7 linked regions of the Homo sapiens genome follow. The protein of the gene in region 1 purifies or fractionates together with the protein of each later gene. This does not show direct contact. Each region holds a gene or a part of one and is shown in the gene's direction. Other genes may lie near its edges. The genes, in order: CELF5, PUM2, ELAVL2, CASC3, PUM1, PAIP2B and MSI1.

Region 1 (3,500 bases):
GGAGGTTCACAGGGAGTTACCAAAATACCACAGAGCAGTCCCAGGTACCCTTCACACAGCTTCCCTGATGCCAGCAGCTTATCTAATCATAGGTCACTGTCAAACCCAGGAAACTAACACTGGCACCATACAATTAATTCAACTCCAGACGGTATTCAAATTTCACCATTTATTTATTTAGCGACAGAGTCTCACTCTGTCGCCCAGGCTGGAGTGCAGTGGCGTGATCATAGCTCGCTGCAGCCTTGAACTCTCGAACTCCTGGGCTGAAGCGATCCTCTCACCTCTCACCTCAGCCTCCCAAGTCACTGGGACTACAGGCACGTGCCATTATGCTTGGCTAATTTTCGATTTTATTTTATTTTTTAAGAAATGAGGGTCTTGCTATGTTGCCCAAGCTGGTCTCGAAACTCCTGGGCTCAAGCGATCCTCCTTCCTCGGCCTCCCAAAGTGTTGGGATCACAAGTGTGAGCCACCACACCCAGCTGATTTCACGAGTTTTTGTATGCACTCTGTGCACGTGTGTGTGTGTGTGTGCAGGGGCGGTTAATTGCCATTTTGTCACAGATGCAGACTTGTGGATCTCCCACAGTGAAGATACAGAACTGCTTCTTGCCCACAAAGTGAACTCCTTCCTGCCACCCCTTTGAAGTCACAGTCACCACCACTATCCCCTGCCCTCCAGCACACTCTCCATTCGGGCAGAATTGTTTGGCTGAATTTTTCCCCAGAATCATCAGCTTTGGTGGCCTGGACAACTTCTTCCCTCCCCTACCCCTTTCCCTAGCGGTAGCAGGAAGGCTACAGCTAGATGGGGGAGCTACAGGGTGTCTGATGAGGAAACTCATGTGGAGAGGGAGACGGGGCAGGGGATGGGGGCAGGTGGTGATTTGAGGTGGAGGCTGAAGTCCTGGTGAATCCAGGGAGTAGAGAGGAGTGAAGGGTCCCCCTTGGGAGGCAACCGGGTCGGGATAGGGAGAGGGAGATGGGGACGATGGTGATCTCTCTCTGGAGTCCGAGAAACCCGGATTCCAGTTCAGCTTCTGCCATTTGCTATCTGAGTGGCCCTGTGCAAGTGGCTTCACCTTCCTCGGCCTCAGCTTCCTGGTCCTACAGAGGGTTTAGCACAGAGGAGAAGCTGGGCGGGGTGTTTGTTGCTGTCCTTGCGGCTCTTAAGGATCGGGGGTGGATGGAAGACTTCTGCTGCTCCCGCCCCACTCAGCCCCTCTGTCTGCCCGCAGCTCAGAGCCCGACTGTGGCCGAGACACTGCATCCTGCCTTCTCCGGAGTCCAGCAGTACACAGGTAGGAGGCAGCCCGCGTGCCCGCGCTGGGCCCTGGCCCCGCCCCCGCCTAGGGCCCCGCCCCCAGGGCCCGCCCCGGACGTGTCGTTCTTCTGTGCCTAGCCGCGCCTCCTACCTCTGGCCCCGCCCCTCAGGGCCCACCCTTAGCCCCTTGTCCTGTATTCAACCCCGGGCCCTGTTACTGGTCCCACCCCACCACCACCTATACCCGCAAACAGGACCTTCCCTTGTCCTTTAAGGACAGCGCTTACCCATGGCCTTACCCTCTCATGTTCTGTGTTGGGGAGAGGGAATTCCCCTTGACCACGTCTCTAGCTCTGACCCAACCCCAGCTCTCGGCCCTGCCCCTTACCCTCCCTCCTGCAGCTCCTAGCCCCGCCCCTCACTTCCTGCCTTTACTCTGACCACGCCTCTCTGATAAAGCCCCGCCCCTACCTCTGGCTCTACTTCTTAAGGCCTGGCTGTGACCCCGCCCTCTGCTGCGGCCCCGCCCCTTAACTCATGGTCCTGCCCACATAGCCCTCCATCAAGTCACGGCCCCGCCCCACTCATGCCCTTCATCCCAGTCTTGCCCCCGCCCTCCACTGTGACCCCACCCCTCAAGCAATGGTCCCGCCCACTCTGGACTGTCCTGTAGCCTTGGCCCCGCCCTCTACTGTGGCCCAACCCCTATACCCCTCCCCTCACGCCATGGGGTCCGCCCCCACCCCCCCTTCCCCGCCCCGTCTCGGTATTGGCCCTGCCCTCCACCATGGCCCCGCCCCTCAGGCAATAGCCCCTCCCCGTTTCGTCTGTGATCTTGGCCCCGCCCTCTGGCCTGGCCCCGCCCCCAAACCCTCCCCACAAAGGCCATGATCACACCCACTCCTGCCTTGGCCCCACCCTCTTATGGCCCCGCCCCCTCCCCGCCCAGCGGCCCAGGCCGCCCACGTGGCCTCACGCCCCTCCTCGCCCTGTGTCTCGCTCCGGTCTCCGCAGCCATGTACCCCACCGCGGCCATCACGCCCATCGCGCACAGCGTCCCCCAGCCGCCGCCCCTCCTGCAGCAGCAGCAGCGAGAAGGTGAGGCGGCCGCAACCTCCCCTGGGCGCCAGCCCCGCCCTCTGCCCGCCCTGTCCACCTGCAGGCTCCGTGTCTGGCCCGGGCCTCTGGGACCCGCGGGGCTGAGAGTGCGGCCTGGGGGCTGGACAGGCCAGAGTTGAGTCCCGGTGCAGCCGCTGACCCCTGGGAATCTCCCTCTCTGTTTCCTCCTCCGAAAAGAGAACCATGCTCGCCCCGACCCCGTAGGAATAGCAGTGACTTCCTACCAGCCCTCTCCAGAACCAAGAGTGATTCTCTGGATTTTTTGGAAAGGAAACCCTTTTTGAGGCTGGGGCATGGCACGATGAGGTATCAGGTAATGAGGCCTCCCCAGTAAAGCCAAGGCTGTCGAAGGAGGGAGGGATTCGATTCTGGAGTCTGACAGTCAGGGTTCAAATCCATACAGTTCTTGCCATGTGCGGTAGATCCCGCCTGTAATTACATAGCGTTTTGGGGGCCGAGGTGGGAGGATCACTTGAGCCCAGGAGTCCAAGACCAGCCTGGCTTAGCAAGACCCCATGTCTACAAAAAAATTAAAAATTGGCCAGGTGTAGTGGTGTGCACCTGTAGTCCCAGCTACTCAGGAGGCTGGAGCAGGAGGATCACTGAGCCCAGGAGGTCAAGGCTTCAGTGAGCTACTATCTCCCCACTGGACTCCAGCCTGGGTGAGAGAGCAAGACTCCATCTCAAAAAAAAAAAAAAAAAAAAAGGCCGGGCACGGTGGCTCACGCCTGTAATCCCAGCACTTTGGGAGGCCGAGGCGGGCGGATCACAAGGTCAGGAGATCGAGACCATCCTGGCTAACACGGGGAAACCCTGTCTCTACTAAAAAATAGAAAAAATTAGCTGGGTGTGGTGGCGGGCGCCTGTGGTCCCAGCTACTCGGGAGGCTGAGGCAGGAGAATGGCATGAACCCAGGAGGCGGAGCTTGCAGTGAGCCGAGATCGCACCACTGCACTCCAGCCTGGGCGACAGAGCAAGACTCCGTCTCAAAAAAAAAAAAAAAAAAAGAAAAGAAAAGAAAAAAATCCCAAGCTGGTAACAACCCAAGTGTTCATCAGCAGGTAAATGGATAAATAAATTAGGATGGAGCTGCACGATGGAACACTATACAGCA
Region 2 (3,500 bases), on another chromosome or scaffold:
TGGGCGCCTAACGCTTTGGGAGGCCGTGGCAGGTGGACTGCTTGAGCTCAGGCATTTGAGACCAGCCTGGGCAACGTGGTGAAACCCCATCTCAATAAGAAATGCAAAAATTAGCTGGGCATGGTGGCTCGCGTCTGTAGTCCCAGCTACCTGGGAGGCTGAGGCGCGAGGATCTCTTGATCCCAAGAGGTAGAGATTGCAGTGAGCCAAGATCGAGCCACTGCACTGCAGCATGGGCAACAGAGTGAGGCCCTGTCTCAAAAAATAAAATAAAGTAAAATAAAATAAAGTAAAATGATACTATGAAACCTTGTATCTGTTAATGGTAATGTTGAAGATATTTTCTATTACAACTCTGTTGCCTCAATAATGCTCCATCTAAGAAATTGCTTTTTTTTTCTCTGATACTGGGATGAGGGCGGGTGTCTCATCGTGTTGCTGGGGCTGGAGTGCAGTGGTGCAGTCACTGCTCACTGCAGCCTCAACTGCCCAGTCTCAAGCAGTTCTCTGACTTCAGCCTCCTGAGGAGCTGGCATTACAGGCGCACAACATCATACCCAACTAGTTATTTTGTTATTATTTGTAGAGACAAGGTCTCACTATGTTGCCTTGGCTAGTCTCGAATTTGTTGCCCCATGTGGTCTCGAATTCCTGGACTAAAGCAATCCTCCTGTCTTGGCCTCCTAAAGTGCTGGGATTATAGGTCCAAGCCACCATGCCCAACAGAAATTTCTTTTAAAGCTTAGTGTTAGGAATAAGGTTGCATCCAAGGGTTTGGTATGATTTCTTTCTCTGGCTAATGAGAATTGTACATACCTACTGTTTGTACAATTACTAGCACAACTGGTTAGCTTTAAACTTACTAGTTTATTTGCTATTTTATTTAATAAATTACTTAGTTATTTTTATTTAGAAACTTTTTTTTAATTTGAGGCAGGGTCTCTGTCATCCAGGCTGGAGTGCAGTGGTGTCACCCAGGCTGGAGTGGAGTGGTGTGAACATGACTCACTGCAGCCTTCACCTCCCTCGCTCTAGTGATCCTTCCACCTCAGCCTCTTGAGTAGCTGGGACCACAGGCATGTACCAGTACACCCAGCTAATTTTTTTGTTTGTTTTATTGTATATTTCCTTTAAGATAGTCTGCCGTCTTCCAAACATTTGCTTAAGTGAATAAAGTAAGTTTATTTAAATTATACTCAATTTTTTTTTAAACACAGACTCTTTTAAAAATATATAATTTAGCTGGGCATAGTGTGGCACTACTGTAACCCTAGAGGTTGAGGCAGGAGGATTGCTTGAGCCCAGGTTTGGAGGCTGTGAAGGCACCACCGCACTCTAGCCTGGGTGACAGAGTAAGACCCTGTCTATAAATATATATATGATTTAATACTTAATCCTTGAAACTAACACAGATTTGGTTTCTCTCCATACATTTCTACCTAGATGTTTGGTGGTGTTTTTGATGTAATAACTTGCCTTTTTAAAACTTAAGTATCTTTAGGAAATTGGCTTGGTCATTTCATCTCACTTTAAAGTTAACCAATTCAAAGCTTGTTCTTGATTACTTGAGGAACTTTAAAAACCGCAATTCATGCTAATCACCTAAATGATTCCTTTTACTTCAAAGATTTATACAATTCATATATATTTCTTAGACTATTCATAAGTCATAATAAGCTAAATATATTTTAAAGCTTTTAACCGTAAGTTAGGGTTTTCCTAGACAAAAATTAAATCTCTATTCTACCCAGTCTTATGAGAAAATTGAATATATTTCATACCTCACATTCATTTTTCTTTAAGTTGTCTTGGAAATGACTAGAAACACTACATAAAATGTATTTGTGTTAACATTTACAGAAAAGTTATGGTAATACTGGGTTAAGGTTAAACAGTTTTAATTGTAGAATTTCTTGGAGCCAGTAACAGAAGGAAGGAAAGATTGAACATGTACTCAGAGCTTGCAAAGGAGCAAGTGGGTGCTACTGAGCAGCATACCTGAAATGTATTGGACAAGGGATCACTTATTTCTGAGAACACTGAGTTGGTGAATAAGGAGCACACTTAGGAAAATTCCAAATATACTGCATTAAAGTCTGCTTCTTAAAATTGTTATTTTTCTCCAGTTGTCTCAGACCATGCATTCAGATTTCTTCCTTTAGTTCTCTGTTACAATTTAGTTAACATTTCTTTTTCTTTCTTTTTTTTTTTTTTTTGAGACAGAGTCTCACTCTGTTGCCCAGGCTGGAGTGTAGTGGCGCAATCTCCGCTCCATGCAACCACCACCTCCTGGGTTTAAGCGATTCTCCTGCCTCAGCCTCCCTAGTAGCTGGGATCACAGGCGCCTGCCACCACACCTGGCTAATTTTTATATTTTAGTAGAGACGGCCTTTCACCATGTTGGCCACCCTGGTCTCGAACTCATGACCGCAAGTGATCCACCTGTCTCAGCCTCCCAAAGTGCTGGGATTACAGGCGTGAGCAACCATGCTAGGCCTCTAGTTAACATTTCTTAAGTTGTTTTTCCTTGGTGAGGTATTAATTCTAATTGATAGCATGTAACAATTGAAAATTACTAAGATAGCCATGTGAGACAAGTCTTCATTTGTTGGACTTTCAGCCTAGTACTAATAGGAACAAAAAGTAACACAATAACTTTTGTACTTTGATAGTTTCCAAACTGTAATGCAGTTAAGCTATATTTATATAGGACATTAAGAAATTTATTTTGCTAACCTCAGTAAGTCTTACAATATGAAGAAATACAAAGATAAAGCCAACAGTACCTTCTTTACCAAAGTTGAGTGAGATGTTTATTTTTTCGTACTTCCCACAAACATATGTAGTCATACATTGCCCCCCTCCTTTTTTGAACAAAAATTGGATCATATGATACACATTAGGCAACTTTGTATTTTTACTTAATATCATGGACATTTTACATGTAACTTTAATTACTTGTAATTTTTGTACTGGCTCATTGTTTTAACTTTTTTCTGTTGTTGAGTTTGGCTTATTTTTTTAATTTTGTACCACCATATAAGTGGTGCTGCAGTAAATATCTTTATATAGTTAATTCATTTGTGTTGGTGCTGTTTGTTTAAGGTAAATTTCCAAAAGAGAAACTTCTGGGTCAAAATATTTTCTTTTTTTGCGGGGCAGGGAGAGGGGGGCTGTGCAGAGCGCAGGTAAGAGCTGTGGCCCCTGCTATGTTGCCTACGCTGGTCTTGAACTCCTGGACTCAAGTAATCCTCCTGCCTTGGCCAACCAAAGTGTTGGGATTATAGGCATGAGCCACTGTGCCCAGTCCAAAGAATTTTATATTGATTTTTAAACAAATAAACAAAAAGTTCAGTTTGATGTGTCATTAATACTCTAGAAAGCACTTGCATTTCAATTTCATTTATTACCTCACTTAATCTTTGCAACAGCCCTATGAGGGAGGCATTGTTGTTTCCATTTGCAAATGGACAAATGAGATCGAGTTCATTTAGCTAGTT
Region 3 (3,500 bases), on another chromosome or scaffold:
GACCAGTCTCAATATGTCCAACACTGCCTTCTTTTGTAAACATCTCCTGGCAGTAGAGATTTCTTCCTATATGTTTATCTGCTAATGTGCCCTTTTATTTTTCTTAGGCAATATGTGTTTTAAAAGACAGTTTTTTCTCTTTCCTTGTAACCCTCTTTCCCTTTACTTTGCTTTTTTTCTTTGCCTCAAGTTCTTTGCCTTTTCTATGTTAAAGCTTCCCTAAAACTAGCATCCCGTCAATTCAGAATTGTCAGTTTTGAGAAGCAGTTCTTTGTGGAGGTGAGAGATGTATGCAATATGAAGGATAATCCTTTCAGTGATGCGTTGATTTTTAGATTCCACCACAGTCTTGGCTGTCCAAAGATAGGTAGTTAGTGGAAAATGATTTTGGAAAATTTGGGGCTGTGGTTTGTGACTCTTTTGCATAGGATTGGTTTTAGGAAACTAGATTTAATACTGCTTAATAAGTGATTTGTAGAGTAGCCTGAACAGTTTGAGGCCATTTTCCCCAATTCTGTTCTTTATCTGGTGTTTGGAGTTTATAGATACCCTATTACTTGCATTTTCAACAGGCTTATGTGCTCAGACGAGAATTCCTTGGGCTGGTCTGTTTGCAAAAGTTGATATATTTACATTGTTGTTTTCATTGACTGGATAGGTTTTCTTTTTTCTCATTAAAAAGCAGAGTCAAGGAGAAACACCATATCGAAGTGTTTGGGGATTTTATTTTGATGTTGTAGATCAGTCACCTTGTTGGTAATTTTTAGCTGCCAAGGTTGACAGGAGTGTCCTATTAGATTCTACCAGTTAGACAAAGTATTCATAGCTCATTCCCAAGTTACCTTACAGTTAGTTCCTTTCCACTCCCTAAAATATAGCATCTGTTTTTTTCTTACCAATGGTAGAGATAAGATATTGTCCATCAAAAACGTTTTCAATATGTAACCAAAACAGTACATGTTGACAAATTTATATTTTTAAAAGTACTCTTGCTCTTTGATTTTTAAGTTAATGGCTATCTGTCAGTTTTAGAATATTGAACCTCTTAGGATAACTGAAAATCTCTTCAGAGTTAGGTAGGTCATTTTTTTGTTCATTTTTGTAGCATGTTAAGCACTTTTATTTTCTAGTATGATTTTTAGTTAGGGTTCAATTCTGTGCCCTTTGGTACTTGATTTTCTCATCTGTGGACACTGCAGGTGAGTAAGGATATGTGAATAGACCCAGAATGTGATTCTAGAAAATGTTTAAGATTTAAATTGTGCTTATATGCATGTATGGAATATGTATGTGAAAATATAGTTGTAACCTTAAGATGAATAGGTTAATATGAAGTGAAAATTAGTGTAGGTATTACACTTTTTGTTGAAGCATTGTTGTAATTTCATTAGAACGACTTGTGTTTAGTGACAAGTGTTTAAATTCTTGGATGGAGTCTCTAATAGGTTGTGAAATATGAATTCTGACATTTCTTGTTTTCTCTGTTTTTAGCAGGTAATTGCTGCCATGGAAACACAACTGTCTAATGGGCCAACTTGCAATAACACAGCCAATGGTCCAACCACCATAAACAACAACTGTTCGTCACCAGTTGACTCTGGGAACACAGAAGACAGCAAGACCAACTTAATAGTCAACTACCTTCCTCAGAACATGACACAGGAGGAACTAAAGAGTCTCTTTGGGAGCATTGGTGAAATAGAGTCCTGTAAGCTTGTAAGAGACAAAATAACAGGTAAGCAGTTTTATGTAGATGATTTATATTTAACGGATCGTGTCTCAAGATAGGAGAAAATAATAAGATTACTGCTTGTAAATAATTCACTGCTGCAATTTTACATATCTAGATTTTCTCTCTGTTATTACATCAGCAATATGAAACTTAGTTTAAAATTTTCTTTTTAAATCATAAACTATTTTGGGGGCAGTATATATTTTAACTGGACTTTAATGTACTCTGATCTGGACAGGATCTTTGGAAAATCTTCTAAAAGTATATGTATCTGGGATAGCCAGTGTCATGTTAACTTTTATCTTTTAGTACCCTGAGTGTATTTAAGTTAGCATTTCAACAGTGAGATACAATATGTGTTTGGGAGAGGGGAAAAAATCTTAAAATGTGTTTTCCTTATGTTAATATAATCATTTTGCTTATATATGATAAAATAAATGGTAATGTTCACATTGTCAGTGTATAAACATTTTCACTGATATAATACCAAGCGTGATGAGATCTTATGTTCCGTTCCTTAACAAGGAAAGGACATGGTATATGATTGTCCTTCTTGTTATAAAGATAAAGCCTTAATTATAGTACATTTTGAATATTAGGTGAAAATCTCCTTAGTATTTTTTAAGATTTGACTAAATTTTTAGAGTAAACCAAAACCTAATTTAAAGAGCACGTTCTTGGGATAGAAGGGTTAATGCTTCCTGCAGGAGTTGTTTTCAAACACTAAAAATACATGAAGTTAGACATACATATGAAGTTAAACACTAAAAATATACGAAGGTAGACAGACTCTGTGGACTTTTCATGTTAATTAAATTTGATTGATAGTGTATACCAAATTGCTTTACAAAGCTTATAACCAAAAATATAAAATGGAATATTTGAAATGAGTAAAAGATACTTAAAGGCAGTGTGAAGAATGAGACCAGGAGTCTGAACTCTCACCTAGTCATGTGACATTGGATAAGTCAGCCCTAGACTTCTGGTTTCCATTGGCAAAATAAGGTAAAAGGCAGAGAAAAAGGGGGTAACACTGGGCCATTTCTAAGTTCACTTTTGACTTTTTCATACATGGGACTTTGAGCTATTCCGTTAATCGTTAGGGCTCATTCTCTCCAAGATCTGCAAGTGAGTTCTAGAGCCAGCCCCTGGACTTGGCTCATAATCATATTTCCTCAAGCTACAGATTGAGATTCACAGAGACAACTTACTGAAATCAAGTTAAAAAGCTAAGTACAAACTGATTGTCATTGATCCATAGCAAACGGCCATTATATTTTAATTATGTTGCTTAAATGTTCACTATGATATTAGGAAGGTGGTTCTTATGTTTCTGAACACTGATAATCAGATGGATGAGATTTTTCAATTTCTTTTCCAAAATGAGTGTGATAAGCATATGTGAAATTTATAGTGTTTTTAATAAGTTGAAAAAGGTGAAGAACAAAAGGCTGCTCTTACGTCTCTGTCGTGATGTTTTTAAACATCTTTTTAACATGTTTTAAACATGTTATCTTTTGTTTTTAAAGTAAAACAACACCCCTGACATGTGGATTTTGCAACCTTTTTAATATAAAAGATAAAAATATGATAAATGACTTGAGGGCTATGACACAAATGATGCAATTTCTGATTGCTTAGTAGAGCTCCCCTTACTATTAAAAAGAAAGATGCATGAACAGAGCACAAAAGTCATGTTTTGTTATGAAACTGTTACGAAATGATACATTTTATCATTTTATAAGATGAAAATATTAGACAAATCATA
Region 4 (3,500 bases), on another chromosome or scaffold:
TGGCGCAGTCTCTGCTCACTGCAAGCTCTGCCTCCCTGGTTCAAACGATTTTCCTGCCTCAGCCTCCCGAGCAGCTGGGATTACAGGTGCCTACCACCAAGTGCGGCTAATTCTTATATTTCTAGTAGAGATGGGGTTTTGCCATGCTGGCCAGGTTGGTCTCACACTCCTGACCGCAGGTGATCTGCCTGCATTGGCCTCCCAAAATGTGATTACAGGCGTGAGCCACTGTGCCAGGCCAAAATAGGATCTTTATTTTCTAGAAATATGGGTAAGAATATTGATTTGTTTGCTTTTCAGTTCTATGTTGTACTAAAAATTTATTGATAAATGTATTCCTAAAGAGTAGAAAATTGAAATGCAGCCAGGCACGGTGGCTCACGCCTATAAACCCAGCACTTTGGGCGGCCAAGGCAGGCAGATCACGAAATCAGGAGTTCAAGACCAGCCTGGCCAACATGGTGAAACCTGGTCTCTACTAAACATACAAAAATTAGCCAGGCGCGGTAGTGGGCGCCTATAATCCCAGCTATTTAGGAGGCTGAGGCAGGAGAATTGCTTGACCCCTGGAGGCAGAGGTTACAGTGAGCTGAGATTGTGCCACTGTATTCCAGCCTGGGTGACAGAGACTTTGTTTTGGGGTTGGGGGCAGGGGTGGGAATTAAAATGCACCGTTCAGATCTTATATGCATCGCTGACAGGGAAACTTTTTTCAGGGTGAAGAAGGTGAATACAGTGAAGAGGAAAACTCCAAAGTGGAGCTGAAATCAGAAGCTAATGATGCTGTTAATTCTTCAACAAAAGAAGAGAAGGGAGAAGAAAAGCCTGACACCAAAAGCACTGTGACTGGAGAGAGGCAAAGTGGGGACGGACAGGTTAGTACATTCCACAGTCCTCCATTTTAGAGGCTGGAATAGAGATTCTTGAGGCTTGGAAGAGTAAGGATCCCTTTATCTGTCCTCTAGGAGAGCACAGAGCCTGTGGAGAACAAAGTGGGTAAAAAGGGCCCTAAGCATTTGGATGATGATGAAGATCGGAAGAATCCAGCATACATACCTCGGAAAGGGCTCTTCTTTGAGCATGATCTTCGAGGGCAAACTCAGGAGGAGGAAGTCAGGTAAAAGCCACTTGCTGCTGCTGCTGTCTAACATGTATTTTACACATGTAGGCCAGGTACTTCGATTTGCCTGTATTTCATTTATTACAGCATTTTAAGATAAGTATTATGATTATCCTTATCGTACAAATGAGGAAAGTAGGCTTAGAATATTTGGTAACTCTTGGTGAGGCAGCTAAGATACAGACCTAGGACAGTTTGTTTCCAGAACTCATCTTCTCTTAATTATTATACTTTTGCTTTTCTTAGTCTGAGGTGTAAGGCGTCTGAGAAGTGAAATACTTGCATAGGTTGCCTTTTAGGAGAAAGGAGATGTTTCAAAGGTACTGAATGGCATGAAATGAAGTCTTTTTCTCATTTCTGTGTCTGTTATATTTGAGCCCAGCAGGCCCTGAGGTTCTGTGATTCACGCTTGCTTTGGGGAGGCCTGTTTTTTATAATCTCTTTGGGATGATGAGGAGACTACGTAAAGTTCCTATTGTCCCCCTGCCTCCCTGACCCATTTTGTTCAAGAACATCTCTACTTGGAGAATTCTGCTGACCCAAGACACTTTTCCTTCATTTTATCCAGACCCAAGGGGCGTCAGCGAAAGCTATGGAAGGATGAGGGTCGCTGGGAGCATGACAAGTTCCGGGAAGATGAGCAGGCCCCAAAGTCCCGACAGGAGCTCATTGCTCTTTATGGTTATGACATTCGCTCAGCTCATAATCCTGATGACATCAAACCTCGAAGAATCCGGAAACCCCGGTGAGGACATTTTAGAACATAAGACCAGGCTGGGTATGGTGGCTTACGGTGGCTTACACCTGGAATCCCGGCACTTTGGGAGGCTGAGGCAGGAGGATTGCTTGAGGCCAGGAGTTCAAGACCAGCCTGGGGAACATAGTGAGACCCTGTCTCCAAAAAAAAAAAGAAAAAAAGGAAAAAAAAAATAGAGTGTAGACTCTTGATATCTTTTAGAAAGAATTCTCTTTGCTTTTCTTTTTATTTATTTATTTAAGACAGAGTCTCGCTGTGTTGCCTAGGCTGGAGTGCAATGGCATGTTCTCGGCTCACTGCAACCTCCACCTCTTGGGTTGAAGTGATTCTCCTGCTTCAGCCTCCTGAGTAGCCAGGATTACAGGCGCGTACTATCGCGATCGGCTAATTTTTGTATTTTTAGTAGAAATGAGGTTTCGCTATGTTGGCCAGGCTGGTCTTGAACTCCTGGCCTCAAGTGATCTGCCCGTCTCGATCTCCCAAAGTGCTGGGATTACAGGCCTGAGCCACCGCGCGTAGCCTCCTTTTGTTAATTTCCTAACAGTTTCTTCATTCCATTTTTTGTAGATATGGGAGTCCTCCACAAAGAGATCCAAACTGGAACGGTGAGCGGCTAAACAAGTCTCATCGCCACCAGGGTCTTGGGGGCACCCTACCACCAAGGACATTTATTAACAGGAATGCTGCAGGTACCGGCCGTATGTCTGCACCCAGGAATTATTCTCGATCTGGGGGCTTCAAGGAAGGTCGTGCTGGTTTTAGGCCTGTGGAAGCTGGTGGGCAGCATGGTGGCCGGTCTGGTGAGACTGTTAAGCATGAGATTAGTTACCGGTCACGGCGCCTAGAGCAGACTTCTGTGAGGGATCCATCTCCAGAAGCAGATGCTCCAGTGCTTGGCAGTCCTGAGAAGGAAGAGGCAGCCTCAGAGCCACCAGCTGCTGCTCCTGATGCTGCACCACCACCCCCTGATAGGCCCATTGAGAAGAAATCCTATTCCCGGGCAAGAAGAACTCGAACCAAAGTTGGAGATGCAGTCAAGCTTGCAGAGGAGGTGCCCCCTCCTCCTGAAGGACTGATTCCAGCACCTCCAGTCCCAGAAACCACCCCAACTCCACCTACTAAGACTGGGACCTGGGAAGCTCCGGTGGATTCTAGTACAAGTGGACTTGAGCAAGATGTGGCACAACTAAATATAGCAGAACAGAATTGGAGTCCGGGGCAGCCTTCTTTCCTGCAACCACGGGAACTTCGAGGTAGGTATCATAGGATTGGTGGCTAGCTTTTTCCCCTTTGCATCATCAGGTTTAGGGGCATGGGACTTCTGTCTCAGGAAGGTGGTGTCTGACAAATGTCTACTTCTTTTTTTTTGAGACAGAGTCTCACTCTTTTGCCCAGGCTGGAGTGCAGTGGCGCGATTTTGGCTCACTGCAACCTTCGCCTCCCAGGTTCAAGTGATTCTCCTGCCTCAGCCTCCTGAGTAGCTGGGGTTACAGGCGCACACCACCACGCCCAGCTAATTTTTTTTTTTGTATTTTTATTTATTTATTTGTTTTGAGATGGAGTCTTGCTCTGTTGCCTAAGCTAGATGCAGTGGCACGATCTCGGCTCACTGTAATGTCCACC
Region 5 (3,500 bases), on another chromosome or scaffold:
ACTTGCCCTCACTTAGACTATAGTTCACTGATGAGAGCATTGTTCTGAGCCAGTCTTAAGTCATATTGGAGGTATCTAAATGTCCATGCAGCTTGGAATATGTGGTTTTTCCTTGGTGGATTATCTGTTTTCTGTTTCAGAATCAGGGATAGATGGAGTGGCCAAGCTAGTTTACAAGGCTTAGTCTTTATGTTGATGTTTTTGAACAGCATGATTAGTGAGAAATTTCTGGTATACCTTGATAGGGTCATCCCTTACGTTTTTAAGGTTTCTCTTAAACCAATAGTAGGGGTCCTTTTTAGCTGTCTACCTCTGAGATACATGTTTATATAGATACATCTTGAATATATGTTGTTTTTGGTTCACTGTCAGCTGGTTTGGTGCTTTGCATGGGATTAGATGTACTTTGATGTTCTACATGTGAAACAAGTCTTTGAGAGATGTCAGCGTATTTTTATGGACCTTTACTGATCATAGAGCATAGCCAATTTAACTGAGCCATTTATGAATTCAATAAATAACTTTAACCTGTTTCATTTGTTTTTTAGTTACTGAGCCTTTGTGTGTTCTTAGGAAGTCACCTGCAGTTTTTCATATGGCTTAAACTGGGATTTGGAGATTCTATCTCACATAATATTGAAAGATCATGTTATTTAAAGCCTATCTAGGTTTTTCCTGCTATTTTGCAGGATATTTGTTCTTAAATTATTATGTAGTATGAAAGTACTATGATTTTTATAATCATTTGTAGCCTCTGTTTATTCAACTATTTAAGTGATGGAGCCAGTATATAAATCTGGCCAATTCAACCTCAAAGCTGAGTTTGTGATTATTGACAATATGTTGGTGCCCAGGAGATACTTGTTTGTTTAACATATACATTTCTTTGTTGGCTTGATATTCCTAGGTTATCCGGTGTTGGCTCCTGCTGCTTACTATGACCAAACTGGTGCCCTTGTAGTGAATGCAGGCGCGAGAAATGGTCTTGGAGCTCCTGTTCGACTTGTAGCTCCTGCCCCAGTCATCATTAGTTCCTCAGCTGCACAAGCAGGTGAGCGCACATCTGAGTGGACTCCTGCCAGAGATCTAAAAGTGGCGACTGATAGTGAGATTCTTAAAGTATGTTGAAATAAACTTTTGGCAATTCTCAGTATATCGGTTCTACCCTGTAATGTTTCAAAAAGAGATCAGAAGCAATAAGTGACCTTAGTGGATTCTCCTTTTTGTTGGGGGGTTGGTGGGTTGGGGGAGGGGTGGCATGTGCCAGCTGGTTAGAAGCAAGGTCTGAAGGTCTGGCTCCACTGAGAACATAGAAGTTGCATTACTCACACAAAATGGCTTTGTTGGCAGAAATCCAAGTCATTATTTTAAGATAATTTTAGAGGAGGGGTTGTTTTTTGCCACAGGGGCAGGAGTGGAGGACGTGGGAAAGAGTAGTGAGAAGTGACAAAATAATACATTTGGTTGGGAGGAGTAATAGTTTTTTACTTTAAGTGTTTATATTTATTTATTTTTTAATTAAGAACAATAACAGGAACATCTAGAAGACAGCAGTGTGCTAAAATAGGAATTTGAAGGATGTGTATGTGCATTACATGGTTCTAGAAGAAACCCTCAACATAGATATTTATGGAATTTAAGATTTTAGGAAGTAGTTGTATTTAATGGATACATTTGATGTTTATACCCCTTTTAATCTGTATACTCTTAAAAGCAACCAGCATAGTGAACTTGTTCTAGTGGTATTTTGAGTTCAAATTGAAAGTAGAAACAGAAAATAGAAGCTTCATATGAAGGGATCAAAGACAGATTTGTATGGTTTGTGTCTGTTTTGAAAAGATAGGCAGCATTAAAAGATTTTTTGAAAAAAGATAAAAATGTAGTTTGGAAATGTGGCCAGTCCCTTTCATAGCCAAACGGTTTGCTTTCTTCTTCATAGCTGTTGCAGCAGCCGCAGCTTCAGCAAATGGAGCAGCTGGTGGTCTTGCTGGAACAACAAATGGACCATTTCGCCCTTTAGGAACACAGCAGCCTCAGCCCCAGCCCCAGCAGCAGCCCAATAACAACCTGGCATCCAGTTCTTTCTACGGCAACAACTCTCTGAACAGCAATTCACAGAGCAGCTCCCTCTTCTCCCAGGGCTCTGCCCAGCCTGCCAACACATCCTTGGGATTCGGAAGTAGCAGTTCTCTCGGCGCCACCCTGGGATCCGCCCTTGGAGGGTTTGGAACAGCAGGTAGAAATTAGACTGATATGCTCTTAAGACTGAATTTTAATTATTTTTACAATCCTTCTGGAATACTGGCAATGCATGGAACCACAGGCAGATCTGGACCAAGCCTTGTGGGAATCCAGCCATCCCACATAATCTGTGAGATGATAGACTATTGAAATCAAGTTATACAGATGGGACCTATTTCAATCCATGCTCATGTGGCTACTTACTTAATCAGTTTCTTTCAGGGATTTGAAATCTAGGGAAGATTTTTGCTGTATTTGGGAAAAATATTGAGGGAACTGTAGAAATTGATATCAAAAACTGAGGGAGGAGGACTTACTAAAGATAGCAGAGCTGAAATACTCCACAATTGAGACTGAGCCGAGTTCTTGGCCTGCAGGCCTTAAAGAGTTACAAGTTTTCTTCAGTCTTTTGAGTAGAATTTAAGGTAGACATGTGGAAAATTAGGAGGAAGGATATTAGACCAAGATATTTTTAATGTTTTGATGAAAAAAGCAGGAGTGTAGTATGGTGAATAATGGGATAATTGCAGAGATTATAAAAAACAAACAAACAAAAGTGATCCCTAAATAGAAGGGCATGTGTGAAAGAAAGTATCTTAATTGGAATTGAGGGCAGCATTAACTCTCGATTGAACCCACTGAGAAAACAGGCTTTCATATAGAAGTCTTGTGTAGTGGGGCAGTACCCCATTTACAAATCTTTTTTCTGTATCCCATTTTTCTACTTGAACCTTTTCAATTGATGAAAGGCATTCTTCTAGTCCATTTTCTTCCACCTTTTCCATAGTTCATGTGGCCGTCAGAGCTTTTTAACCCTCCCTTATCCTATAATATACGACACCATAGGAAGGTAAATTTGGCATATGTTTGATGGTCATGTTAACCTGAGCCATGTCCTCTTTATTACTTATCTGCCCCTAGTACTGCTACATTAACAGTTAGGCTGTCTCTGCTGACAAATTTGCGGTGGTAAGGAGTCTGGATCAAAGTGTTAGGAACAGGTCACTGGGCTTGTTCTTCGAAGAACAGGCCTGTTCTTATCTGCATTGTTTTAATTCCATTTTAGTTGCAAACTCCAACACTGGCAGTGGCTCCCGCCGTGACTCCCTGACTGGCAGCAGTGACCTTTATAAGAGGACATCGAGCAGCTTGACCCCCATTGGACACAGTTTTTATAACGGCCTTAGCTTTTCCTCCTCTCCTGGACCCGTGGGCATGCCTCTCCCTAGTCAGGGACCAGGACATTCACAGACACCACC
Region 6 (3,500 bases), on another chromosome or scaffold:
CAGAGTAAGACTCCGTCTCAAAAAAAAAAAAAGGACGCAGTTGGGTTAAGGGGGAAAAAAAGGGAGAAGTGTAATTATATGCAACTTGGAACATACACTCTCACTGGCTATTCAGGCCACAGAAAAAGATGGAAAATGCTTAGTGAATTGTAAAATCTTATGGGTCATTTCTAACTAGATTTTTTTTTTTTTTTTACTCTAAGCTTCTGTCATTTTCCCGTTGGGTGTCTATTAAGTAAAAATCAGGGTAGATATATTCTGAAATGTCAACAATATTCATTATGTGTGAGTGTTGAGATTAAGGGGGCTTTTTTTCCCTTCCAATTTGGTTTTCTTAGTTCTGATTTCCCAACTCATATGCAAAGAAAATGGATTACTTCCACAATAAGGGAAACAGGTTCACATGTAAAGAACCTAAAAGAGAAACATCTGAATTAAAATGCTTCAGAAAAGGAAAACAAAATAATGAAGATAGAAAATATCAGGAAATTTCAAACACAAAGCAATATAAGTACTGGATAAAGTGGAAATTGAAGGGAAAAAACAGTTCTCTCAAACCCTGCTACTGCTTTATCAACTAAGTTGATTATGTAATATTCTAAATCCTTCGTTGTCATTTCCACAGTGTTCAGAATATGAATAGGAACAAAGATCATCAAGATTCAGGAGGATGGCAAAACCCAGTCCAAGGAAAATAAAAATCATAGTAAAGTGATACAGGAGCTGAAAGACAAAATAGGCAGTATAAAAAAAGAACCTAACAGGTTTGACAGAGCTGAATAACACAAGAATTTCACAATGCAATCACAAGTATTAACAGCAGAATAAACCAAGCTGAGGAAAGAATCTCAGAACTTGAAGACTGGTTCTCTAAAATAAGACAGGCCAGGCATGGTGGCTCACACCTGTAATCCCAGGACTTTGGGAGGCTGAGGCGGGGATCACCTAAGGTCAGGAGTCAGAGACCAGCCTGGCCAACATGATGAAACCCCATCTCTACTAAAAATACAAAAATTAGCGGCTGGGCGCGGTGGCTCACGCCTGTAATCCCAGCACTTTGGGAGGCCGAGGTGGGCGGATCACGAGGTCAGGAGATCGAGACCATCCTGGCTAACACGGTGAAACCCCGTCTCTACTAAAAATACAAAAAATTAGCCGGGCGTGGTAGCGGGCGCCTGTAGTCCCAGCTACTCGGGAGGCTGAGGCAGGAGAATGGTGTGAACCCAGGAGGCGGAGCTTGCAGTGAGCCGAGATCGCGCCACTGCACTCCAGCCTGGGCGACAGAGCGAGACTCTGTCTCAAAAAAAAAAAAAAAAAATTAGCTGGGCCTGGTGGCAGGCACCTGTATCCCAGCTACTCGGGAGGCTGAGGCAGGAGAATCTCTTGAATCTGGGAAGTGGAGGTTGCAGTGAGCTGAGATCACATCACTGCACTCTAACCTGGGCAACAAGTGTGAAACTGCATCTCAAAAAAATTAAATAAGACAGTCAAAAATAAAGCAAGAAGAATAGAAAGGAATGAACAAAAACCTCCAAGAAGTATGGGATTATGTAAAGAGGACAAATCTATGTATCACTGGCATCCCTGAAAGGGAGGGGAACAAAGTAAATAACTTGAAAGATATATTTCAGGATTGATATGGTTTGGCTCTGTGTCACCACCCAAATCTCATCTTGTAGCTCCCATAATTCCCATGTGTTGTGGGAGGGACCTGGTGGGAGATGACTGAATTATGAGGGTGAGTCTTTCCTTGCTGTTCTCATGATAGTGAATTGGTCTCACGAGATTTGATGGTTTTAAAAACGGGAGTTTTCCTGCACAAGCTCTCTCTCTTTGCTTGCCGCCATCCATGTAAGATGTGACTTGCTCCTCCTTACCTTTTACCTTCTGCCATAATTGTGAGGCCTCCCCAGCCACATGAAACTATAAGTTCAGTAAACCTCCTTCTTTTTTAAATTGCCCAGTCTTGGATATGTCTTTATCAGCAGTGTGAAAACAGACTAATACAAGGATACCATCCATGAAAACTTCCCCAACCATGTTAGAGAGTCCAACAGTCAAATTCAGAAAATACAGAGAACTCCTGCAAGATTCCACACAAGAAGATCATTCCCAAGACACATAATCATCAGACTTTCCAAGGTCAAAATGAAAGAATATTAAAGACAGCTAGAGAGAAAGGGTAGGTCACCTACAAAGAGATCCCTATCAGGCTAACAGCAGACCTCTTGGCTGAAACCCTATAAGCCAGAAGAGACTGGGGGACTATATTTAACATTCTTAGAGTAAAAAAATCTTCAACCAAGAATTTATATCCAGCCAAACTAAGTTTCTTAAATGAAGGAAAAATAAGATCCTTTTCAGATAAGCAAATGTTGAGGGACTTCATTACTACTAAACTTGCCTTACAGGAGACCTTGAAAAGAGCACTAAATATAGAAAGGAAAGACCACTACCAGCTAATACAAAAACCCACTTAACCACACAGACCAGTGTCACTGTAAAACAACCACACAAACAGGCCAACATAATAACCAGCAAACAGCACAATGACAGGATCAAATCCACACATATCAATACCAACATTGAATGTAAATGAGCTAAATGCCTCACTTAAAAGGCACAGAGTGGCAAGCTGGGTAAAAAAGCAAGACCCAATAGCATGCTGTCTTCAAGAAACCCATCTCACACATAATGACACTCATAGGCTCAAAATAAAGGGATGGAGAGAAATCTACCAAGCAAATGGAAAACAGAAAAAAGCAGGGGTTGCAATCCTAATTTCAGACAAAACAGATTTTAAACCAACAAAGATAAAAAAAGACAAGGGAAGGACATTACATAATGGTAAAGGGTTCAATTCAGCAAGAAGACCTAACTTTCCTAAATACATATGCACACAACATAGGAGCACCCAGATTCATAAAGCAAGTTCTTTATGAATCTGGGTGCAAAAAGACATAGACAGCCACATAATATTAATAATGTGAGACTTCTATACTCCACTGACAATATTAGATCATTGAAGCAGAAAATTAACTAAGATATACAGGACCTAAATTCACCATTGGAACAAATGGGTCTGCTAGACCTTTACAGAAGTCTCCACCCAAAAACAACAGAGTGTACATTAATCTCATTGCCACATGGTACACACTTTAAAATTGACCACATAATTGGACATAAAACAATCCTCAACAAGTGTAAAAGAACCGAAATCATACCAAACACACTCTTGGACCACAGCACAATAAAAATAGAAGTCAACACAATGAAAATAAAACCATACAATTACATGGAAATTAGACAACATACTCCTGAATGACTTTCAGGTAAATAATGAAATTGAGGCAGAAATCAAGTTATTTGAAAATAAGGAGAACAAAGATACAACATACCAGAATCTCTGGAACATAGCTAAGGCAGTGTTAAGAGGGAAATTCATAGCACTAAATGCCCACCTCACAAAGTGATAAAAGATCTCAAATTAACAACCTAAC
Region 7 (3,500 bases), on another chromosome or scaffold:
TGATCCGCCCGCCTCGGCCTCCCAAAGTGCTGGGATCACAGGCATGAGCCACCGCACCCAGCCTTTCCAAGACCCTATCTTTACAAAAAAATTAATTTAAAAAAAAAAAGATATTTTTGGAGGGTGAGAAGTTCCATGAGGAAATTAAAGCAGGGAAATGTGCTAAGGCGTTATGGTTGGGGACAAGGGGCCGCCTGAGTGGGGGTATTCAGGGAAAGCTTCTTAGAGGAGGTGGCATCTGAGTGAGAAGGAGCCCACTGTATGAAGTTTTTAGGAAAGATTCACAGTAGGAGGTGCTCATCTCTCAGCCCCAGGGAGCCCCAGGCTCAAGCCATTCAAGCCACTGGGTGTTTTAAGCAGATTCCCTTTCTACTCTTTCAGCAGGTATTAAGCACCTGCCGTGTACAAGGCAAGGTGCTAGGTGCTGCAGAGGTGGCGATGATGGCAGACAGCAAACAAGGGGATAGGTGCCTGTGTCTGAAGAGGAGATGGCAGACAAAGAGGCTGGGGGGATTTGGGGGAGGCAGTGGTCATTTCTGGGTGGTCAGGGAGGCCCTTAGGGTGCTCTCAGGAGACAGGGGCGAGGGGAGCAGGACAGGCAGCAGAAGGTGCGGTGCAACGCTATGGCCTCGGTGTGAGCCCAGCCTCAGCCTGACCCCTAGAGCGCTCTACCTGGGGGCAGCAGGCCTGGGGGCCTGTCCCATGTCTGTCTATCGCCAGGTGTCGTGGGCTGCGAAGAAGGACGTGAGCTCCCAGGCACCTCTGGGCCAAGTGATCCCTGTTTTGCCAAGGGCATCCTGGAGAAGGGGGCAGCTGCGGGCAACCTTCGCAGCTTCTCAGGGTTGGGTGCCCTGCCTCCACCCTCCATGAGCTTTGGGTTATTCAAGCATGTCCCCCCAGACCAGGGGAGAAATTGAGGCTCAGCTACTCACTGGGAAGCTGTCCTCTCTCCCACCTTTTTCCATCCATGCCACAGGTCAGGACACAGATGGTGTGGCCCAAGGTAGCCTTTTCTGCCTTGACCCTGGGGCTACATGGAACCCTCTGAGGTAGGGCCAGGCTGGACAGGCTCTGCCTAAAAGGTAGGGGCCTCCTTCACCCATCTCTGCCCCTCACCGCCATGCTGATGTGCCCATCCCTTTCCTTTCAGCCATTCCTCTCACTGCCTACGGACCAATGGCGGCGGCAGCGGCGGCAGCGGCTGTGGTTCGAGGGACAGGTGAGCTCTTCTGAGGTGCAGGAAGAGAGATGAGGGAGCACAGGGAGCAGAGAAGTCCAGGGGAGGGGAGAAGGCCACTGCCACCCCTTTGCAGAGGGACACTTGTTCATTCACTCAAGTATCACCTGATTACCTGCTCTGTGCTGGGCATCGTGCCAGCATGGGCGAGCCAGCCCTCAGCAAGACTGACAGGGTCGGCTGGGCGCGGTGGCTCCTGCCTATAATCCTGGCACTTTGGGAGGCCAAGGTGGGCAGATCACCTGAGGTCAGGAGTTCCAGAGCAGCCTGGCCAACATGGTGAGACCCCGTCTCTACTAAAAATACAAAAATTAGCTGGGCGTGGTGGTGCGCGCCTGTAATCCCAGCTACTCGGGAGGCCAAGGCAGGAGAATCGCTTGAACCCGGGAGGCGGAGGTTGCAGTGAGCTGAGATCACGTCACTGCACTCCAGCCTGGGCAACAGAGTGAGACTCCGTCTGTCTCAAAAGAAAAAAAAAAAAGACTGACAGGGTCTCTGCCTTCCAGGGCTTGCAGCCTGGTGGTGGCATCAGGTATTAAAAAGGCAATAATGCTGATGGCTGATGCTGCTGCACTAGGGGGAGTCCAGTACCAGAGGAGCTCCCAGCTGGGGCCTCTAGGAAAGGCGAGGGAAGGCTTCCAAGAGGAAGGGCCTCTTAACTTTGCATTCAAAGGCAAAGAGGAGGAAAAGTGTTTCTGGTTGAGGGAATAGCATATGCAAAGGCTTGGAGGCCAGTGGGTGGGGAAAGTGCGGAAGTGGGGAGTGGAGAACGGAGGCAGGAGGAGCCCGGGTGGTGGGGAGACAGTGGAAATTGCAAGTAGCAGAGGGACGCGGGTCAGGGTTTAGAACATGCATTCAGCTGCTAGGTGGGGAGAGGTTGGGAAGGGGCTCAGGAGGTGAGGCTGCTGAGTGGTCAGACGAGATGATGGGGGTCAGGGCTAGGGGTGACTGGGTGGATGGGCATGGGGAGATCTCCAGGAGGTGGGCCCACAGGACTTTCTGAAATGTGGGGGTCCAGGTTAGGGTGGGTGGGACAGGCTTGAGGGGGTGCCGTGGGGTGGCAGAGGGCACCAGGGCTATCACCGTCTTCTTTCTGGGTTGCCAGGCTCTCACCCCTGGACGATGGCTCCCCCTCCAGGTTCGACTCCCAGCCGCACAGGGGGCTTCCTGGGGACCACCAGCCCCGGCCCCATGGCCGAGCTCTACGGGGCGGCCAACCAGGACTCGGGGGTCAGCAGTTACATCAGCGCCGCCAGCCCTGCCCCCAGCACCGGCTTCGGCCACAGTCTTGGGGTGAGTGGCCAGGCCTAGCGGCCCCCACCTCACCCCCCACACCTTGAGAGACCCCCAAGTTGGGGAAGGGAGAGAACTTCTTTGTCTCTGGGGGCAAAAGGAGGGTGAGGGAGGATGAATGGAGAAAGATCACTAAGGAAGAGTTGTGGGGGTTATCATTCATTCAGTGGGCACTTAGTTATCGCCTCTGAATGCCAGGCATAGTGGGCTCTAGGTGCAAATGAGACACATGGCATCTCTGCTCACATGGAGGTTTGATTCCAGGGGTGCCCTGGTTTTATCCAGGGTACGGTTTGTGCAGATTCCCTGGCCCTCTGTTGGAGAATCTTTGAGCAGACCTGCAGTGGGGGGTGATCCGGGTAGGCAGACCTGCAGTAGGGGGGCGATCCGGACAGGTAGAGAGAGGTCAGCGCCTCACTTCAGATGTCCTGCAGAGAGAGAAGGAGCCCCTGATCTTCCTCTATTTCCCAGGAATCTAGGAGTCAAATTCTTTCCTTTTCAGGGCCCTTTGATTGCCACAGCCTTCACCAATGGGTACCACTGAAGCAGGGGACGGTGGCAGGAGGTGAGGATGTGGGGGTGGGCAGGTGGTGGGGTGGCACTGGGGAAGCCTGTCCTGGGCCATCGAATCTGGGACACAGACCCCATCCCTGCCCTCAAGAACCACAGTCCCAGGGGAGACAGATCTTTATACCAGCTGTGGTCAATAAAGATGAAAAGCTGCTCACCCTACTCCATTTAAACACAGAAATCAAAGCAACAGTAAGGCTTCACATCCCACCTATCAGGTTGGCAAAGATTATTATTATTATTATTTTTGAGACAAGATATCGTTCTGTCACCCACACCTCCTGGGCTCAAGGGATCCTCCCACCTCAGACTCCTCCCGAGTAGCTGGGACTGCAAGCACCTGCCACCATGCCTGGCTAATTTTTTTACTTTTTTTGTAGAGACAGGGTTTCACTGTGTT

The links.
Region 2: the proteins of CELF5 (region 1) and PUM2 purify together in Homo sapiens (affinity purification with mass spectrometry; 2 studies listed by BioGRID and IntAct, with this or other methods). This does not show direct contact.
Region 3: the proteins of CELF5 (region 1) and ELAVL2 purify together in Homo sapiens (affinity purification with mass spectrometry; one large-scale study listed by BioGRID and IntAct). This does not show direct contact.
Region 4: the proteins of CELF5 (region 1) and CASC3 purify together in Homo sapiens (affinity purification with mass spectrometry; 2 studies listed by BioGRID and IntAct, with this or other methods). This does not show direct contact.
Region 5: the proteins of CELF5 (region 1) and PUM1 purify together in Homo sapiens (affinity purification with mass spectrometry; 2 studies listed by BioGRID and IntAct, with this or other methods). This does not show direct contact.
Region 6: the proteins of CELF5 (region 1) and PAIP2B purify together in Homo sapiens (affinity purification with mass spectrometry; 2 studies listed by BioGRID and IntAct, with this or other methods). This does not show direct contact.
Region 7: the proteins of CELF5 (region 1) and MSI1 purify together in Homo sapiens (affinity purification with mass spectrometry; one large-scale study listed by BioGRID and IntAct). This does not show direct contact.

The regions. Positions count from the first base shown.
Region 1 is NC_000019.10:3,283,661-3,287,160, forward strand, and holds part of CELF5 (CUGBP Elav-like family member 5), read left to right. Parts: intron 1-1,241; coding exon 1,242-1,304; intron 1,305-2,281; coding exon 2,282-2,365; intron 2,366-3,500. UniProt on the Homo sapiens protein: RNA-binding protein implicated in the regulation of pre-mRNA alternative splicing. Mediates exon inclusion and/or exclusion in pre-mRNA that are subject to tissue-specific and developmentally regulated alternative splicing.
Region 2 is NC_000002.12:20,340,845-20,344,344, reverse strand, and holds part of PUM2 (pumilio homolog 2), read left to right. Parts: intron 1-3,500. UniProt on the Homo sapiens protein: Sequence-specific RNA-binding protein that acts as a post-transcriptional repressor by binding the 3'-UTR of mRNA targets.
Region 3 is NC_000009.12:23,760,241-23,763,740, reverse strand, and holds part of ELAVL2 (ELAV-like protein 2), read left to right. Parts: intron 1-1,491; coding exon of another isoform or gene 1,492-1,506; coding exon 1,507-1,735; intron 1,736-3,500.
Region 4 is NC_000017.11:40,161,037-40,164,536, forward strand, and holds part of CASC3 (protein CASC3), read left to right. Parts: intron 1-716; coding exon 717-875; intron 876-896; exon of another isoform or gene 897-965; coding exon 966-1,117; intron 1,118-1,688; coding exon 1,689-1,865; intron 1,866-2,444; coding exon 2,445-3,130; intron 3,131-3,500. UniProt on the Homo sapiens protein: Required for pre-mRNA splicing as component of the spliceosome. Core component of the splicing-dependent multiprotein exon junction complex (EJC) deposited at splice junctions on mRNAs.
Region 5 is NC_000001.11:30,964,718-30,968,217, reverse strand, and holds part of PUM1 (pumilio homolog 1), read left to right. Parts: exon of another isoform or gene 1-55; intron 56-907; coding exon 908-1,051; intron 1,052-1,939; coding exon 1,940-2,236; intron 2,237-3,307; coding exon 3,308-3,500. UniProt on the Homo sapiens protein: Sequence-specific RNA-binding protein that acts as a post-transcriptional repressor by binding the 3'-UTR of mRNA targets.
Region 6 is NC_000002.12:71,196,104-71,199,603, reverse strand, and holds part of PAIP2B (polyadenylate-binding protein-interacting protein 2B), read left to right. Parts: intron 1-3,500. UniProt on the Homo sapiens protein: Inhibits translation of capped and polyadenylated mRNAs by displacing PABPC1 from the poly(A) tail.
Region 7 is NC_000012.12:120,345,165-120,348,664, reverse strand, and holds part of MSI1 (RNA-binding protein Musashi homolog 1), read left to right. Parts: intron 1-1,150; coding exon 1,151-1,219; intron 1,220-2,342; coding exon 2,343-2,530; intron 2,531-3,032; coding exon 3,033-3,074; 3' UTR 3,075-3,095; intron 3,096-3,500. UniProt on the Homo sapiens protein: RNA binding protein that regulates the expression of target mRNAs at the translation level. Regulates expression of the NOTCH1 antagonist NUMB.